Linked DNA regions of Homo sapiens. The protein of the gene in region 2 interacts with the protein of the main gene of each other region in a biochemical or structural test. Each region holds a gene or a part of one and is shown on either strand. Other genes may lie near its edges.

The links.
Region 1: the proteins of RECQL4 (region 2) and MARCHF5 form a complex in vitro, tested with the Homo sapiens proteins (one study listed by BioGRID).
Region 3: the proteins of RECQL4 (region 2) and MCM10 form a complex in vitro, tested with the Homo sapiens proteins (one study listed by BioGRID).

What each region holds. Positions count from the first base shown.
Region 1 is NC_000010.11:92,350,126-92,354,464, reverse strand, and holds the end of MARCHF5 (E3 ubiquitin-protein ligase MARCHF5), read right to left. Parts: intron 3,375-4,339; coding exon 3,258-3,374; 3' UTR 501-3,257; downstream 1-500. UniProt on the Homo sapiens protein: Mitochondrial E3 ubiquitin-protein ligase that plays a crucial role in the control of mitochondrial morphology by acting as a positive regulator of mitochondrial fission and as an important regulator of immune response.
Region 2 is NC_000008.11:144,514,834-144,522,746, reverse strand, and holds the start of RECQL4 (ATP-dependent DNA helicase Q4), read left to right. Parts: upstream 1-4,913; 5' UTR 4,914-4,962; coding exon 4,963-5,046; exon of another isoform or gene 5,047-5,111; coding exon 5,112-5,145; intron 5,146-5,238; coding exon 5,239-5,333; intron 5,334-5,556; coding exon 5,557-5,697; intron 5,698-5,982; coding exon 5,983-6,759; intron 6,760-6,856; coding exon 6,857-6,983; intron 6,984-7,289; coding exon 7,290-7,421; intron 7,422-7,504; coding exon 7,505-7,597; intron 7,598-7,674; coding exon 7,675-7,811; intron 7,812-7,913. Other genes in the region: LRRC24 (leucine-rich repeat-containing protein 24 precursor), read left to right, coding at 1-272; LRRC14 (leucine-rich repeat-containing protein 14), read right to left, coding at 1,269-1,836, 1,925-2,509, 2,693-3,021. UniProt on the Homo sapiens protein: An ATP-dependent DNA helicase which unwinds dsDNA with a 3'-overhang in a 3'-5' direction. Does not unwind more than 18 bp of dsDNA. May modulate chromosome segregation. The N-terminal domain (residues 1-54) binds DNA Y-shaped DNA better than ss- or dsDNA.
Region 3 is NC_000010.11:13,156,957-13,164,557, reverse strand, and holds the start of MCM10 (protein MCM10 homolog), read right to left. Parts: upstream 3,001-7,601; 5' UTR 2,952-3,000; exon of another isoform or gene 2,333-2,951; intron 431-2,332; 5' UTR 356-430; coding exon 349-355; intron 1-348. UniProt on the Homo sapiens protein: Acts as a replication initiation factor that brings together the MCM2-7 helicase and the DNA polymerase alpha/primase complex in order to initiate DNA replication. Additionally, plays a role in preventing DNA damage during replication.

The DNA.
Region 1 (4,339 bases), on a different chromosome or scaffold from region 2:
CATATGCATCCAGGACTGTTCAATTCTATGCCCTTTCTCCTCTTAGCATCTGTCTCTCAGATGGGGTAATGAAATGACTTAAAACCAATATAATCCCCAAATGGATGCAAGGAAAAGACCTTTAACTCATTCTAGAGGATTCTAATCTTCTACTTCAGAAATTTAAGTTCTTAATATCTCAGAAGCAGTTTGTGTTCCCAACTCACTCGAATACACTTTAAGACATCATGGCATGAGACCACCCACAGATCTTGTCTAGTTGCTTAATTATACTCAGTGCAAGAGGCTTTGAGGGTGGGTGAGTGGGGATGTAGTTTAGTCATTAGAACATACTTAGAATATAGGCTAGCCTGTTTACAAAATTAGGACAAATTCTTCCATACAGTTTTTTTTTTAAATTCAGATTACTTTTACTTACAAAAACTAGTATCTCGATAACTGTGATTAAAAAAAATTATGTATGTACAGAATGTTTTGAGATTTAACAAAGTACACCTAGAGAACATAAAAATTCTTTATTTAACCTAATCCAGCCAGTATTGAGATAGTTTGCTATATTAAAAACAAGACGTTTAAAAAAATTACAGCAAAGTTAGCAAGGCAGTGACTAATTAAGTCACTAAGTTTAATTTTATATTCTTCACAGTCATTTCATAATCATGTAATGGTAAACAATATTTTCAGCCACTTTGGAGATAAGTTAACTTTTGAAAAGAATTCTAGTAGTCGTCATTGAATTTTATAAAAGAGGTTTAAAACATTAAAGTTTCCAGAAATAACACAGTAAAGAAATATGAAAATAAACTGGAAAATAAAATATACCCACCCATCCGAAAAATCTACATCATCTCTTTCATTTGTCCCCAATGCCTTTCTTTTACCTCTCCATTTACTTTTCCTAGAGTGCAAACAGATTACTTAGCAATTAAGAAACAACTACTGCTTTGTAGGGGCGATTTTGAGCCTAAGTGCTGCTGTTCCTTTAATCTCTCAGTTAATCCTAGAAATAGTCTTCTGAGATAAACATTATTTGCATTTCAAAGATTAAGAAAACTGCAGTTGAGAGAAAGTCAAATCCTTTAGCCAAAATCATACATACAGTTATTGAAAGCTGAACTATGATTTGAACCCAGGTCTATCCAACTTTAAGTCTGCCTATGCTCTTTTGTTGCTTCATGGTCAGGCAGGTCACCTTCCTGGGAAGACTGGCATGTGGTATTTCTCGAGCTAATAATAATAAGGCTCTTTAGGTTTAAAAGTGTTCAATTCGGGGCTAGAGGCCACTCTGGTCCTCAGGCACTTGCAGTTCCCTCCCCGCAACCCTAAAAAAACCCTCCCTCCTGCCCCAAAAGGATTAGAGTTGTTCCCCGGCCTTCATGAGCCCTAATACCTATAAAACCAAGCAGCTACTCCCTGTCAAGGGCATTAATGTAGTAAATGGGGAACTGTGTGTTTGCATAACTTTAGTAAAGGCTGCCTAAAAACTGTTCTATACAACAAAATTTTGCAAGATATGTGTCCATTTAATGTATCTTTCACATTGAAAACAAAAGCCAATATATTTTATAATTACAGCCTATAATCTAAGTTTTTAAAATATATAACCATAGATGTTATATTTCCCCTTCAGAACTGTAGTAGTGTTCTTAATAAGGCTCACTGTTAGTCAAATCTTCATCTCCAAATAATACAAATTTGAATGTTCAACAGTCATTCAAATAAACATCATATAACTCAAAATTAAGACATTCATACTATAGAAACCAGTCTTTAATTACTAAAGTTAACATATATTATTGCAAACTAACATAGCTCAATCTATATTTGCTACACTCCTAAAGTGGCCGCTTATCAGTAAGGGGAAACATTTATTATTGACATGCATTACTGTGAACAAGAAAATAAATAGGGTTTTGAAAATATCTCTTAAAAATTTAATTTTAATTAACAAAAATAACCATTCAGGTTGCTGAACATTAAAATGGCCAATCTATTGAAAATGGCTTCAATAATTGCTTTTAAAAATGAATACAAAACTAAACAGTGATTAAGGTGCTAGCCTCATCAATAGGACAATTAAAATCTAAAAACATTAGTGTTGATTTTCTATAATAAACTTAAGCCAAAAACAATGACCTCAATATTTACTTAAGACTTCTTGTTTTCATACTTTTCTCCTCATTAATATAAAAACAAAGAGCTCAAGGCCTCACCTTGGTTTATTCACTGCTGGTTTTCTATGTGCTGAAACTAGACTGTCAACTCTGTAAGAGCTTGGACCAAGTCTGTCTTGTTCACCACTATGTCCTACAGCACTCTGCACAGTGCCTGGGAAATAGGAGGTGATCAACGAATATCTCAATAACTGAATCAATGCAAGAGGAGAGTAAAATAACTTTATTTTTATTTTTGCAAATCATCCTCTGCTCAAACTACTATAAACTGGCAGCTGTAATTTCTAGAAATATGGGTTGAAAAAACTCCCAGAGATGGAAGGACCTGATGAAACACTGAAACACACAAATACACACACACACACACACACACACACACACACACACACGACTGCATGAGTCAAAATTACTTCATGAAGTATGAGATGTCAACATTATGTAAATAAAATTTAATATTGAAAAAGTGATCTGGAAGCCCTGTGAATTTTTACCCTACACATTTTGGAGGACATCACATGGGTTAAAGAAAACACCACAAAATCTCATTTGTTCAGATAATCATTTGAATGTTTACATACATTTTTGGTTATTTATTTATAACTAATTTAATTTACATTTCCTCATATTAACATATCCTCTTATTTAGTATGTAATCAAATTATGTCAGTGAGAAAAATCCTCATAGTACCTTGAGTTGCTGATTCTGAGAAAACACTAAACATGAACATGTACAAAAGAGGCATTTGAATAAAACAGCATGTGCATTTTTTTAATATTTGCACAGTTTGATCTTTGCATTTCTGTCTGGAGAAAATATGAACAAAACCCAGGTTTACCATGCTAAGATAATGGTTCATATGACTGCCATAAAAGTAGTACATACAAACAATGAAAACAAATCACATCCTTAGGTTCCATGATTACCGAGATGATTTCCCCTGCCCTAAGTGCTTTATTATATTTCTTAAAAAATATAGGAGCAGCAGCTTATCACAAGTCTCCACAAGTGCATTAATGATGGAATCAAAACAACACAACAGATTCATAAGGATGAGAGAACTGCAGAACAACCAGAAGTCAGTTTTATGCTTCTTCTTGTTCTGGATAATTCAGAATTTTGCGGTGTGCCTGTCGTAAATATTGCTGCTGTTTGAAGTAAACTTTAAATGCTCCTTTTATGGCAACAAACGCAATTCCACCCTAAAATAAAAAGGAAAATTAGCTTTTTATAATGCAGATTTAGAGAAACAGAGTAATAAAAATAATTTTATTTAGATCACAAAAGACGTAGGCTTTGATGCTAAACTAATTCAGATGACTGCAAATGAAACAGTTTTCTTTTTCTACTAGGAGATGAGATAGGGAGAGAGACAGACTATACGCTGTTACTACAGGTAACAGGGGACACAGATGCCTTCTCCATTATCCTTTCTGACTAGTCTTTCTTCCATGTAGTTCTACATATACTCTGATATACAAAGAAGAATGCTAGGGCACTATGTGCAGACTGCCACTGTTGGGAGCAAGAAAGGCCAAAGGGATCGTGACCAACTCAGCATTCCACTGGAGGCTATATGACCAAACAGCAAACTGTTTATCATGAATGCAGGATGTGAGTAAACTCACACTGAGCCTGCCACCAAAGGGTTTGCTGGGGGCCATCACTCCCTGGTGCAGGGCTCCTTGAACTTATCTACTGGGAAATCTAGCGCCTACTGTTCAAATGATGCAGTCTCGCAAGCCTGCTGTGAACCAAACTGCCAAATGGACTGACAATTACCCGACAATCACCCCTGCTTCTCACTATCTCTTTTGCCTAATAAATACAGAGGGCTGTGTAAAGCTCAGGGCCCTTGTCCACTAGAGGCAAGGTGCCCCCTGACCCCTTCTTCCAAATATACTCTCTTGTCTTTGTCTTTTATTCCCACGTTTGCCCCCTTTGTTCAGTCCTCCAAGGTCCGTGCAGGTTACATGCCACCAGAGGGGAGAAGTGGGAGTAACAATAATAGCAAACAACATGAGTGCTTACTATGTGCTAGTACTTATACAATCCTCACAATAATCCTGATTATTACCATCACCATACTACAGGAACAAAAAGTCCAGACATTTGATTTAGATTTCACAGCAAGACAATTTCTGTGATGGGATTTGAACCAGGTGGT
Region 2 (7,913 bases):
TGATCTGTCGCCGGCGCCGCAGGCGAAAAAAGGCGCGGGGGCCTCCGGGGGAGGGAGCGCTGTTCGTCAACGACTACTTGGACGGCCCCTGTACGTTCGCACAGCTAGAGGAGCTCCGCGACGAGCGCGGCCACGAGATGTTCGTCATCAACCGCTCCAAGCCGCTCTTCGCCGAGGGTCCGGCGGAGGCGCCCGCTGACTGCGGCCCGGAACAGGGGGCGGGGCCGGGACTCCGCGTGCCCCCGCCGGTCGCCTACGAGATCCACTGCTAGGGCCGCGGGCGCGCGGATGACGTGGGCGCCGGAGATTGGCCGGTGCGGCCTCGCGCATGCTCCGTCAGTAAAGGTGGAAGCCGCGCAGTGTGCGCTGAGCCGTGTGTGGGGCGCGAGCCGGGAACGTTGCACTCGGGAATCCTGGGGTAGCAATGGAAGGTGGCCGGGGAGGCCCCAACACCTCCCTTGAAGCTCTTCCGAAAAGACATCACCCCAACCTCCAGCTCTGCATGGGGGGGGTCCCTCGCTGGCCCTGGCCGGCCACAGTAGGATCTTGGGCCTCCGAAAGGTGGGAAGAGCAAGGACTGGCCGGCAGTGCCGACGGGGCTGCCCCGCGAAGGGCGGGGCGACAGGCTGGATGGCAGTTGTTGCCGGGTGGCCATGTTGGGGGTGACAGCAGAGATAAGGATAAGGGTGACCAACGTGGACAGAAAAAAAAACAGCCACAAATTCAACTTCCAGGCACATGTGTACCTTGATGACCCCCTCCAGCCCGAGCCCAGCCCAGTGGGGTGGCTGGGTGGCAGGGTAGGGAACACGTAAGAGGCGTGAGTGCCTGGGGACTCCCAGCTTCCCTGAAGCAGGCCTCTGTCCAACTTCAACCCCAGAAGCACTGAGCTCTCAGTAAAGGGAGAGGAAAGGCCCAGAGAGGCCATCATCTCTCTCAGCTCACAACTGGAATCCCAAAGCATTTGCACAAAGGACCAGGACCCCAGACGGCAGCCAAATGCAGCCAAACTGAGCAGGGCAATGGAGGCCTGACATCCAGCCCCGGGGCCCACAGATGATCAGCCAATTATGGAGCAAGTGCAGGGAAAACCGCGTGGGGCACTGCAGAAAGCAGGGGAGGCTTGAGGTGTGCCCAGAAGCAAGGTAGACCCAGCAGGAAACCAGTAACCAGTGCTTTTGTGAAGGCCTCCACCAGGGGTCCCAGCAAAGGCCCTGCCTACCTAAAGAGACTGCAGGGCGGCCTGTGTCTCACCCAGAGCTACTTCATCATAGGCTGAAGTAGTCCGCAGCCAGTCGCCCGTAGATGTCCGTGGTCCAGAGCACATGGGCACGGCCTGAGGCTAGAAGCAGCTGGTGCAACTCAGCTTCTACGCGGGCAAACTTCTCCTCATTGATGGAGGCCTCCAGCAGGACAGAGGCAGGCGGCGGCCAGGGCAAGCCCTCATAGCAGTCCACAGGGAAGGGGTGCACCACAGTACGCAGCTCAGCCTGTGCCACTGAGTCCCGCAGCAGCTCCTTGAGGCCCGCCATGGACAGTGGGTTGCCATAGAGGCCAAGGTACCGGAGACTGGCGCACTGAGTCAGGATGGGTAGTGTGGCCAACAGCTGGGTGTCTGCGAGCTGACACTCAGTCAGCTCCAGATGCAACAGTGTGGCTGCTGATGCCTGCAACAGACCCTGGAAGGGTGCCAGCTGGCTGCCAGACAGGTCGTTACCACTCAGGTCCAACTTCTTGAGGTGGGCAGCATGTGGGCTCCGTGCCAGGAAGCGTAGGTCCTCAGGCAGCAGAGCACAGAAGGCCAACTCCAGGCTCTCCAGGGGGCTCTGCAGGGTGCTACAGGGGACACAGGGGTCACAGACAGGCAGAGCCAGGGAGGGTCCCTACAGAAGGGAGGGGCAGGGCAGTGGTGGGGCCCGCTCACCTGAGCAGCTGGTCCAGCCTCCCTGAAAGGAGAGAGGAGCCCATGCTGAGCTCACGCAGACAGGTGAAGCGGCCCATCTGGGCAAGGAAGTAGCGGAAGTTGTCCTCGCCATCCACGGAGGGCTGCCTTGAATCCCCATGCACATAGTGGAGCCGCAGGCTGGCCAGGTGCTGGAAGCGGGCCACGTGTGGGATGATCACAGACAGGCCGCGCAGGCCCAGATTGTTGAAGCGCAGGTCCACGCGGCGCAGGCAGCCTGCATCCAGAAGCTGCAGCAGGGCCACAGTGTTGCGCATGGGCAGGTCCTCAGCTCGCAGGTCCCGGCAGCAGAGCCGCAGCGGGCTGCCCACGCTGCTTCGGAGTGCCTCCCGCAGGAACGCATAGGAGGCCCGGTTCACCCGCAGGTCCACGCGCACCTCCACGGGGATGGGGGCTGGCCCAGGCTCTGCGGCCCCACCCTGCTGCTGGGCAATGCATGTGCGAGCTACGGCAGCAGTACAGTCCCACATGCTCATGGTGCCAGGATCCTGTTCCACACCATCATCCAAGAGGCCCGTCATGTCCAGCACCCGCAGCGCATGCTTCCTGGGAGTAGGAATGGTGTGAGGAAGGGGTGGAGGGGCAGCGCCCATACCCCCTCCCAGCCACCTTGGGACAGGAGCAACGCGCCTGCTCCTGCATGAGCTCTTGCTAACTTTATGACCCAAGCCTCCTCAGGGGACCCACTTACACACCCCTGGCCTGACGACCCTCCAGATAAGTCCATACCTGCAGAGGGGCTGTGTGCTGGCCCCAGGCTCTGAGGTGTGGAGCCGGGCAGTCAGCCCCAGGATAACAGCCTGCATGCTCTCAGTGCTAGGCCGCTCCTGCAGGAGGGCACGGCTGCAGTGGGCACACTCCTGTAGCAGCTGCTGGAAACTGAGCAGCGGGAAGGGCCACGTGTGTACCAACTCGCGCAGTACCACTGTCTTCTTGTCCATGAAGGCCACCTTGAACAGCAGGGGGAAGAGTTCGCGTGGCAGCAAGGGCAGGGCCTGGCAGGCAGCTGGCTGGCACTGCAGCACCTGCCGTGTGCTCAAGAACACAAGCGTGTGCATGGTGCTGGGCCGGGCAGACGGCCACCTGCAGGAGAGGGACTTCAGCAGGGAGGAGAGACCCTAGGCCACTACCAAGCCACACACAAGTGGTAGGAAGGCCCAGCATAGTGCCTGAAACAAAGTCAGCAGTTAGCAGTGGCCATGGCACAGAGAAGCACCTATTAGATGCCTAGCGCTGGGCTGGGTGCAGTGAACTGGCAGACAAACTCACAACTCAGCCCCAGCCCTCCAGATGCACAGGATCTCTTTAGAGAAACTAAGCGTCAAGCAGTGTGGCATCGTCAACAACTCGCTTGCTTGGGTATGCTTTTGACAGATGCCTGTTGCCTTGCAGGGCCCCCCATGGGTACTTCAGGCCTCTCAAATTACAAAGCTGCTTCACAAAACCTTCTTCGAAACCTGAATAAAGCCCAGGACTCTCCCCACCAACCTTCATCAGCATTAGTATTGACGGGACACTCTAAGGAGTCAAGCAGCCAAATCACCTTTCCCTCCCCTCTCCTCACAGATGCTCTCCAGGGCTACACTTGGACTCCACAAAACACCAAAGAGCTGGAAGCACAGAAGCAGCTTCATAAGCAACAAGGCAGGTTGAAAAGACCGAGACCCAGGGAACACCGAGTCCAGATGATGTAGCCTATAAAATACAAGCCCCCGCAAAAGCTACTATTCTCCAGAGCGTCACCAAGCACGGAGACCCCGAAAGAAAGCAACCCTCACCTTTGTTGGCCCTTACCACTGGCCTAAACCTCTCCCTCTTCCCTGGAGAGCCACTGTGGAAAGACCAAGTCTTAAGTATGTGGGATTCAGAAGGTGCAAAGCTACAGACTGCTCAGACAAGGCAAAGAAAGCTGCCTCAGCAGCACCCAAGCTGCAGAGATGCACAAACACTCCCAAGGCCACAAGGTACCTGTGACACAGGGTGCCAGCCCTGCTGCTGCCTGTAGCATCCTCAAAACTAAATCGCAGCCATCTCCCTGTGACAGATTAGAAAATGAAGGCCTCGGCCTGGCCCAAGGTCACAGCCTGAGTGACAAGCCAGGGAAGGGGGCCGGGGAAGACACTCTGGCCCCAAGGCCCTTCTTTTTGTCGACTTTTCCACATACAAGTAAGTCCTTAAGGCACCGGTTCCTGAAAAGTCCCAGACACCAACCCTCGGCCTAGTTCTGCCGGTGGACAGATCTCAACGATCATACTCGCTCTGACAGGACAGACCAACCGAGCACTTGTCACGGGAGAACACCAAAGCAGACGGCCTGCCCACCAAGGGAGGCAGGCACCTCCGTGCGACGCCCCCTCCCCTCCCGCCGGCCGCAGGGAACGCGACGGTCCTCGGTCGCCTGCGTTTCGCGAAGACGCCCCCGCCCGGCTCCTCCGGGCCTCGAGCCGCGGGAGGCGCTGGACCCTCCGCTCTTTCGCCTCCCGAGCGGGGCCTGCTCCTCCAGGTCGGATGCGTCTCCCACCAGGGCCTGACGCCGCTCCGACCGGCCCGGGGACTCCCAGTCCTTCCCGGCCCGCGGTGGCACCTCCCAGGCTCCCGGCCTCGGCCCCGGGCTCCCAAATGCAGCCACTGCCTCCCTCGGCCAGGCCGCCCCGAGCGACCGGTGCCCCGCCCCTTGAGGCCAGGCAGGGCCAGGGGCGTGCGCCGCCCCGCTCAGACACCCCCCCGGCCGCCCGCGCTCACCGGTCCCGCAACCGCAGCCACCGCCTCCAGCCCCGCCTAGACCGTCCGCCGCTCCCCGCCCGGCGCCGCGGCGCCCCGCGATGACGTTGACGCCTCCCATTGGCTGCTTGTCCGAGGCCCGACGGACTGGCTGCCCAGGGGCGGTGGCCCCGCCCCCGGCCCGCCGCGCATCCGCATTGGCTGTCGGCCCCCGCGACGGCTGCGCGGGAGATTCGCTGGACGATCGCAAGCGCGGAGGCCGGGCGGGCGCGCGCGCCATGGAGCGGCTGCGGGACGTGCGGGAGCGGCTGCAGGCGTGGGAGCGCGCGTTCCGACGGCAGCGCGGGCGGCGACCGAGCCAGGTGCGGGCTGCCCAGGGGCCGAGGGGCTGAGGGCGCGGCCCGCGGCTGACGCGTTCCCTTTACAGGACGACGTGGAGGCGGCGCCGGAGGAGACCCGCGGTGAGCGCGCGGCGGGGCGGCGGGGGCGAGAAGACACCGGGTCGGCAGGGGCCCAGGCCCCACCCTGACCCCGCCTCCCGCTCGCCCACGCAGCGCTCTACCGGGAATACCGCACTCTGAAGCGTACCACGGGCCAGGCCGGCGGCGGGCTCCGCAGCTCCGAGTCGCTCCCCGCGGCGGCCGAAGAGGTACCCAGGCCCCGCCGCCCCAGCCTCCTCCCACTTCCCTGTTTGGCGGAGTGGCGGGAGCCACGGAGTCGCGGCCAGGCCGCCGTGGGGCACAGAACTTGGGAGGGGGACTGGGCAAAGTGAAGAAGGGCCGGGCCTCGCTCCAGGTGCGGGAGGGGTGGCTGGGAGCGCTTCTGCCGCCACAACAGCCTTTTCTGGCCTGTGCCCCTGTTGTCTCCTGCAGGCGCCAGAGCCCCGCTGCTGGGGGCCCCATCTGAATCGGGCTGCGACCAAGAGTCCACAGTCTACGCCAGGGCGGAGCCGCCAGGGCTCGGTGCCGGACTACGGGCAGCGGCTCAAGGCCAATCTGAAAGGCACCCTGCAGGTGAGGAGTGGGCAGGCAGTGAGTCCACGCTAGGTCCACAGCTGCTTCCGGTCCGGGTCGCCCTCTTGTCATTTTTTCCACACAGACAGGCACGGGCCCCTGTGCCAACCAGGGCACGAGTCTTCAGGGAGCTTCTCGGGGCCTTCGCCCTTGACTCCCTTTCTAGTCCAGCCTTGTGCTAATTAGCCTGCTCTACAATTGAGCGTGGGGACTCAGGTAGGTTTTAGAGTCTACAGTAGCTCAGGGGCCTGAGTTCCTCCTGCTGTTCTGTTGTTCCCCTCCCAGGCCGGACCAGCCCTGGGCCGCAGACCGTGGCCTCTAGGAAGAGCCTCATCTAAGGCATCCACCCCAAAGCCCCCAGGTACAGGGCCTGTCCCCTCCTTTGCAGAAAAAGTCAGTGATGAGCCTCCACAGCTCCCTGAGCCCCAGCCAAGGCCAGGCCGGCTCCAGCATCTGCAGGCATCCCTGAGCCAGCGGCTGGGCTCCCTAGATCCTGGCTGGTTACAGCGATGTCACAGTGAGGTCCCAGATTTTCTGGGGGCCCCCAAAGCCTGCAGGCCTGATCTAGGCTCAGAGGAATCACAACTTCTGATCCCTGGTGAGTCGGCTGTCCTTGGTCCTGGTGCTGGCTCCCAGGGCCCAGAGGCTTCAGCCTTCCAAGAAGTCAGCATCCGTGTGGGGAGCCCCCAGCCCAGCAGCAGTGGAGGCGAGAAGCGGAGATGGAACGAGGAGCCCTGGGAGAGCCCCGCACAGGTCCAGCAGGAGAGCAGCCAAGCTGGACCCCCATCGGAGGGGGCTGGGGCTGTAGCAGTTGAGGAAGACCCTCCAGGGGAACCTGTACAGGCACAGCCACCTCAGCCCTGCAGCAGCCCATCGAACCCCAGGTACCACGGACTCAGCCCCTCCAGTCAAGCTAGGGCTGGGAAGGCTGAGGGCACAGCCCCCCTGCACATCTTCCCTCGGCTGGCCCGCCATGACAGGGGCAATTACGTACGGCTCAACATGAAGCAGAAACACTACGTGCGGGGCCGGGCACTCCGTAGCAGGCTCCTCCGCAAGCAGGTAAGACAGCGACGGGCCAGGACAGGCATTCCCTTTCCCTCCCCTCAGCCCTCCCGTATTTCCCGCCCAGTGACCCTCCTATGTGGGCACCCCCCAGGCATGGAAGCAGAAGTGGCGGAAGAAAGGGGAGTGTTTTGGGGGTGGTGGTGCCACAGTCACAACCAAGGAGTCTTGTTTCCTGAACGAGCAGTTCGATCACTGGGCAGCCCAGTGTCCCCGGCCAGGTGAGACATCTGCCCTGGAGGGTGGGTCCGGCCAACACTGTGGAGAGGGCGCAGTGCTCTTTTGGGGGACACTTATGTTCCAAGCAACAGGCCTTCCAGGTACCCCTGGTCCAGGCCCTACCCTAGCTCCCCTGAAGGAGGGTGGCAGGGACGACGATGGCTGTCACTCTTTTCTGCTTTGGAAAAAGTAGCCCAGAGGAAGGGCACTGCCTGCTGCCAACCCCCTTTGGGGGAAGGAGAGGTTGTGGCCAGTGGTTGTCTTGCCCGACCTGGAGCTCCCATTCTACCCTCTCCTGCCTGCCCCAGCAAGTGAGGAAGACACAGATGCTGTTGGGCCTGAGCCACTGGTTCCTTCACCACAACCTGTACCTGAGGTGCCCAGCCTGGACCCCACCGTGCTGCCACTCTACTCCCTGGGGCCCTCAGGGCAGTTGGCAGGTGAGCAGTCAGCTTCTGGCCCAGAGCCTTCACTGAGGGGTTGGGGTGACTCAAGTCATGGTGATCAACATCTGTGTCTGCAGAGACGCCGGCTGAGGTGTTCCAGGCCCTGGAGCAGCTGGGGCACCAAGCCTTTCGCCCTGGGCAGGAGCGTGCAGTCATGCGGATCCTGTCTGGTGAGCGTGGCTGCCAGGGCTGAGGCTGGGCTGAGGCCAGGCTGCAGAACCCTGCTGCTGACTCCCGCCCCATCCAGGCATCTCCACGCTGCTGGTGCTGCCTACAGGTGCCGGCAAGTCCCTGTGCTACCAGCTCCCAGCGCTGCTCTACAGCCGGCGCAGCCCCTGCCTCACGTTGGTCGTCTCTCCCCTGCTGTCACTCATGGATGACCAGGTGTGCACACAGGGCCCTGGGCACACGTACACAGCCAAGAACCAGCACTTGTGACTCCCAAGGGCAACTGCTGCTTGTCCCCTAACCACCCCCTCCCCTGGG
Region 3 (7,601 bases), on a different chromosome or scaffold from region 2:
GTGACAAGTTACTAAACATCCCTGTTTTTCTGCCTATAAAATACGTTTGCCTGAGGACTGAATCAGTTAATTTCCACAAGGATCTTGGAGCAGTGCCTGGCCCACTGTACACCTACCAGCTATTGTAATTATGAAAGACAATCTCTGTTGCCAGAAGAAATCTCCCCTGATAAAAGCAAGTAACATTCAGTGACCTCTGTGAGATGTGAGATTGCTTCAGAACCACTAAGACAATACCTGAGGGCTGGGGAGCATTTTCACCATTTTACAGGTAGAATAAATAACAAGTCCATGGACAAAAGGTTAGTTTTCCTTGAAACAGAGTAACAGAAAACTGCCAGGTCTTACCATCCATGCTGTCAAGAGGACAGTTGTGACAGGAAACTTCGAAGGAGGCTCAGATGCCCAGATGAGCAATGTAGAATCTTGGCTGTGTGAAAGCAATATTAGAAATGTCACTTTCAATTCTTCTCTTTCTCTCACAACACACATCCAACAAACCCAGAATCCTACCACTCCTATGGGCTCTAACCTCAGAATTCATCCAGAATCTGACCATTTCTCACCTCCTCTCTCCACACCGCCAATGCCATCTCCTTCCTTGGATGTAGCAGCTCACTTTTACTTGTGTTTAAGGTTACAGAAAGTTATTGAGCTGCAGAGCAGTTTGTAAATCACACTAGATTACGTGGATGAGATAAATTATGAGGAAGAACTATTGGGGTTGGCTAGGTACAGTGGCTCAACGCCTGTAATACCAGCACTTTGGGAAGCTAAGGTGGGCGCATCACTTGAGGCCAGAAGTTTGAGACCAGCCTGGTCACATAGCAAGACCTTGTCTTTTTTAAAAATTACACACACACACACACAAATTATTGGGGTCGATCTACATTAGGCTATTCTTTCATTTTATTCACTGTAATACACCTGACATCTGCGTTATCCACGACAGCTTACTGTATGATTCTACTTAGGTGGAGCCTTAGTGACAATCAGGATTTTGATTCAATACTAGTCAGCAAAGCACAGAGAAACAGCGTAGCTAATTAAGACAAAGTTGTATCACTTTGTGCACTTCTCTTTTCATTTAAGGTTATTTTTTAAACTGCAAGTAAGAAAGTATACATTTTTCTAGGCTCTTATTTAACTTACATGTGCTCTTTGGCAAGTTCAATGTCAAGGAACTAATTACAGTGATTATGGTACTTTCTTTTCTTTTTTTAGACAGGATCTCGCTCTGTCGCTGGGGCTGGAGTGCAGTGGTGCTATTGGCTCACTACAACCTCCGCCTCCCAGGCTCCAGTGATTCTCCTGCCCCAGCCTCCCAAGTAGCTGGGATTACAAACGTGCACTACCACACCCGGCTAATTTTTGTGTTTTTTGTAGAGACAGGGTTTCGCCATGTTGCCCAGGCTGGTCTTGAACTCCTGATGTCAAGTGATCCATCAGCCTTGGACTCCCAAAGGTGCTTTTTTTTTTTTTTGAGACGGAGTCTCTGTCACCCAGGCTGGAGTGCAATGGGGCGATCTTGGCTCACTGCAAGCTCCGCCTCCCGGGTTCACGCCATTCTCCTGCCTCAGCCTCCCGAGTAGCTGGGACTACAGGCGCCCGCCACCACGCCCGGCTAATTTTTTGTATTTTTAGTAGAGATGGGGTTTCACCGTATTAGCCAGGATGGTCTCGATCTCCTGACCTGGTGATCCGTCCGCCTTGGCCTCCCAAAGCGCTGGGATTACAGGCGTGAGCCACCGCGCCTGGCCGCTTTTTAAAAATTCATTCAACCAACATTTCCACGGATCCCTCATGTGCCACACACTGTGCTATCTACTGGGGAACCTATTGGACAGTAAGCTTCCTGAGCGTTAGGAGCAAACTGTCTCGTTCAAGTCTGTAACCGGCCTTGCCTTCCCCCAAAATGAAACTGTGCACCCTCCCTCGCCCTCAAATCCACGGCCACTGACAAGTACTGTGGTCCCATCTCCAAAACACTGCTCAAATCTGCCACTTCTCTCCAACTTCACTGCCAGAACCCTAGGCCAAGCCACCGTCAACCTTTAACCCAATGACTGTGTTAGCTTTCTATGTTGGTCTCTTTGTCCCCGTGCAATCTGTTCTGCATACGACAGCCACGGTAATCTTCCCTTTCCTTAGTAACCTTTAGGAACATAAATCAGATCATGGGGGTCCCTTCATTGAAATTCTTTAATGATTTTCCATTGCCCTTAGAAAAAATCTACAAAGCCTGCGAGGCAATGATTCATATTCTCTCTCTCTTTCCAAGCTTTCTACTCCCTCACATTTTCCACAATCCACCACGTCCAATTCTACCCACCCCGACACCCATAACGATGCTCCAGCCGGGCCAGCCCGCTTCCACCTTCTGGAACACACTAAGCTGCTTTGAGGTCTCAGGCTCTGTCGAAGAAAGCTCCCCCCAGGTCCTTCTCGCCCTTCGGTCTCCACTTACTCATCTTTCTGAGACTTTCTGGACCACCCTGAGTCGTCCACTGTCGTGCATTTGTTTACTACCTGCTCGTGCCTTTAAACTGTAAGCGCTGTGAAGGCAGCGGAAATGTGATCCGAGCCATGCACACCGTCCGCATTCAATAATCATTGGCAAATCATGAATACGAGAAACCAATGAATGAATGAATGAATGAATGAATAAAAGAAAGCCCAGGCGGCAGGCACTTGGCAAGCACTTAAAAGGCTGCGTTTAAAAGGAAGAACCCGATTCCTTAGTAGACGGCCAGCAACTCCCAGCCCCCGGCCCGGCCATGCCAGCTCCGAGCGGTCCCAAGCTGCCGCCAAATCCAGATCGCGCCCACCCGAGCTCCCGGGACCCCGCGCCTCTAGCCTCGGACCCCTTGCAACCCGCGCAGAGACGTGCGAGGCGGCCCCGGCCCCGCCGCCCGAGGGTCACACGCACGCCCGGGGCCCGCGCTCCTCACCCGATGCCGGGACGCCTTCTTCGTTCACAGCTGAACCCGCCAAAATTCCAACCGGATCCCGCCCCTGCCTTGACGTCAGACGCACGCGGCTGTGGGGCAGCACTGACTGGCTACGCCAGCGAATCCCGGCCCTGGCACAGAGCAATCGGATTGGTTTACGTCATTGGACGCCCTCTTTGTTGGGGGCAAGGGACCTTCCTGTCGGTAGAAGCCAGTCTCCTTTAGGTAAAATAGAGTGTCTGGCGCCCCCTGGTGCCGGGAAGTTTAAGTCATCCCACCCAGTATTTTCCCTGCGGTCCCATCCCACCTCAACTCCTGACGCTCTGGGACCGACTGTTCCTTTGTCAGCCTTATGTCCATTCGAAATGTTTGGGCTCAGGACCAAACAGATCCGGTCCACTTTTACCCTGTCTGACCTTGGGGAAGTGACTTATCTCTCTGAGTTTCCCCTTCACCATCTGTGCAGTGAGGGAAAGGGTAGATGACATCTTTTACACTGAAACCACCATTTCCCGAGTAATTCCTGTTCCATAGATTTTGGGACTTCTAAGGGGCGTCAGGGCTGAAGAGAACTTATCAGCAGACCATATCTTTCACAGATTTTTTTTTCAGTAAAATTCAGGCCTCTTTATGTATTTACATTCTAAAAAATAGTGTTTGTACATAATACTAAGAACATAGTTTCTAAATGCAGAATAACATTTAGCTTTTACATAATTTCAAGGGATTGATAGCAGAAGAGACTTTGATGGACCAAATGGCCACTTTAAGTCTTTCCCCCCTTTTCCTCCTTGCAGACACTGTTCAGGCACTGCAGTTCCCCCACTAATAATCCCTTTGGTATAAGATCCTATCTCTATCCACTACGTACTTTCATTTTCAGAACAATTAAAATCGACTTTAGGAAGACTGAAGATAAACAGTCCTGATGCCATCTACGTTGACTTTTTTCTGTGTCCTAATGGAATATTACTGCTCCATTTATGAGCTCAGCCCTATTACTTAAACCTATATTGGCTCAGGAATAGGAATACAACCATTTCTGAGAGCTGCTAGTGTTAAAAATTCATAGTAATGGAGGAACTCTAGTAATCAAATTGAAAAAGTATGTTTAAATGCGTACTTTTAAACATACGGCACTAAGGCCGGGCACGGTGGCTCACCCCTGTAATCCCAGCACTTTGGGAGGCCGAGGTGGGTGGATCACGAGGTTAGGAGTTCGAGACCAGCCTGGCCAACATGGTGAAACCCCATCTCTACTAAAAACACACACAACACAAAAATTAGCTGGGCGTAGTGGTGCGCGTCTGTAATCCCAGCTACTTGGGAGGCTGAGGCGGAGAATCGCTTGAACCTGGGAGGTGGCGATTGCAGTGATGAGCCGAGATCTCGCCACTGCACTCCAGCCTGGCGACAGAGCCAGACTCTGTCTAAATAAATAAATAAATAAATAAATAAATAAATAAATAAATGCATCACTACATCTAGTTATTAAAAAAAAAAGATTCGTCATAGATTTATTCTTAGCCATTATGCAGAAATTCCTTGACTAATTCTGATCAGTACTCTGAAGTTCTTTTCTTCACCTTCACTTTCCAGGTCCTCTTTGCATCCAGTTCCGGGCAAGGAGTCAGAAACAGAACCAACCTAAGCCCGCAAACCTTCCTTAAGTGAAGAATCAAGCACTTTTTATTGGAATTAGTATAGTGGTGACTTTGAGAAAAGAAGTGGAGGTGATTTTGAGAAACAATTAGGCAAATAGATTTTTTAAAATCCATTGAATGTGGCTTTTCCGTGCCGATAGCGCTCACACAAACATTACGAAGTTTCCTAAAACCCGCCAGACTTTCTATAAGAAGTGTGGCAAGCACCAACCCCACAAAGTGACACTGTACACGAAGGAGAAGGATTCTCTGTATGCCCAGGGAAAGCGGCGTTATGACAGGAAGCAGAGTGGCTATCGTGGGCAAATTAAGCCGATTTTCCAGGAAAGGGCTAAAACTACAGAAAATTGTGCCAAGGCTTGAGTGCGTTGAGCCCAGCTGCAGCTCTAAGAGAGTGCTGGCTATTAAAATATGCTAGCATTTTGAACTGGGAGGAGGTAAGAAGAGAAACGGCCAAGTGATCCAGTTCTAAGTGTCATGTTTTCTTTTATTATGAAGACAATAAAATCTTGAGTTTATATTTTTAAAACATCCATTGAATGTGGAGATATTAGCGAGAAGGAAGCAGAGAGGGGATGGGGAGACAGGTTTAGGATGACTGTTAGGTTTCTGATTTATACAATAGGGTCGTTTTTGAGGTTGTGCACTGAAGTAGGAGACATAGGAAGAACGGAACAGGTTTAGGGGAGAAGATAGATTTAGTTTTCTATTTCAGAATGAGATGTATGAGAGATGCTGATTAAGAAAGGCACGGTAGCCAGCTTGATCTCCAGATCTGGGGTTCTAAGGAGAGGCCTGGACTCTCCTTAGAATACAAACGAAGGCCAAAAAAGAACAGCTCTGACAGTTATCAACATCTATCTAAAATGAAATCTAAAGCAAACAGCCCATATTGCAGTGGTCCTTAACCTTTTTTGGGCGGTAGGAGGATGTTTATCACAGACCCCTTTAATGTATTAAAAGTGGGCCGGGCACGGTGGCTCATGTCTGTAATCCCAGGACTTTGGGAGGCCGAAGCTGGCAGATCACCTGAGGTCAGGAGTTCGAGACCAGTCTGGCCAACATGGTGAAACCTCATCTCTACTAAAAAAAATGCAAAAATGAACCGGAAGTATTGGCGCATGCTTGTAATCCCAGCTACGCGGGAGGCTGAGGCAGTAGAATCGCTTGAACCCGGAAGACGGAGGTTGCAGTGGGCCGAGATCGGCCACTGCACTCCAGCCTAGGCAACAAGAGCAAAACTCCGCCTCAAAAAAACAAAAAACAAAAAAAAACACAAAAAGTCCAAGCCGAGCCCTTCCTGCTCCCTCTAGGAATCAAAATGGCGGCGAGGGAAAACTGGAGCAGTCCCGGAGCCTGAGCCACTGACAGGAGAGGAGAGGGCGGCGGCGGCGGTGGGAGGAGGATGGCGGCGGTGTGCTGGCGCCGGTGCCTGCCGCGGTGCTGGTGGCGGAGGCGGCGGGGGCGACGGCCGAGGTCCCTGCGGCAGCAGCAGCAGCGGCGGCGGGAGGAGCCTCCAGGTCGATTGAACTGTGGATGAGGAACCTACGGAATACGAAGGGCAGACTGTATAGTAAACACTTGAGGATGCTTGCTGTGTGGTTCTTACAGAATGCACTGTCCGTGTGTCTGGCTGCCCACAGCCTTTCATACTTCAATAGTATGCACTAAAGTAAGGTCTAATGGCCCTGTTCTCATAGAAATAGATGGAAAGAGGCTGCTGGATCCAGGGTTGAAGGTTCCTAATGGCCTCTAGGATTATACTCTGAAGAACCCGCAGACGGAATGCCTGAATGACTGAAGAAAATGGGTGCTAATGCATCTCATTATCCTCATCCATGTTCCGCGAAGGTAGGGGGAAATTCACAGGCCCAACAGACTTTTATAGGGACGTCATCCTATTCTCAGCAAGGCTATGGTTGTGAATCAAAATTGTATAGCCTTGACCATGGCCATGAGAAACCACAAGACAAAAAAAAGAGGCCGGGCACGGTGGCTCACGCCTGTAATCCCAGCACTTTGGGAGGCCGAGACGGGCGGATCACGACGTCAGGAGATCGAGACCATCCTGGCTAATATGGTGAAACCCTGTCTCTACTAAAAAATACAAAAAATTAGCCGGGCGTGGTGGCGGGCGCCTGTAGTCCCAGCTACTCGGGAGGCTGAGGCAGGAGAATGGCGGGAACCTGGGAGGCAGAGCTTGCAGTGAGCCGAGATCGAGCCACTGCACTCCAGCCTGGGCGACAAAGCCAGACTGTCTCAAAAAAAAAAAAAAAAAAAAAAAAAAAAAAAGACCTCTGGCCCTGCTACCTTCAAAAAGAACTTAATTAAGCCTCGAAAATCTGATAGGTCTGCCGATCATGCCAAGCAGATGCGAGAACTCCTCTCTGGGTGGGATATTAGAGATGTCAATGCATTAGCGGAGGAATATGAGGGAAGGTCAGCATTAAAGAAGCTTTCCCTACAAGCCAGTTTGGCTAGACCGGAAGCCCGGACATTGCAGAAAGATATGGCTGATCTTTATGAGTACAAGTATCGTACTGATACAGATTTCATATTTCAAGAAACTTGTTATCCTGTTCATCGTGCCATTTTGGCAGCAAGGTGTCCATTTTTTAAATGCTTTCTTCCTCACCTGAGTATGGGGCAGAGATAATAATGGACATCAATACAGCTGGTATTGATATGCCCATGTTTTCTGCTTTGTTATACTATCTTTATACAGGAGAGTTTGGAATGGAAGACTCAGGGTTTCAAAATGTCGTTATCCTTGTTCAGCTTAGTGAAGAATTCCCTTGATGTAGATATGCGTGGACTCTTTGATTACATGTGTTATTACGATGTCGTCCTTAGCTTTTCTTCAGACTCTGAACTGGTTGAAGCTTTTGGTGGACATCAGAACTGTTTAGATGAAGAGCTCAAAGCCCACAAGGCTGTTATTTCTGCACGGTCCCCATTTTTTCAAAATTTATTACAAAGGAGAATA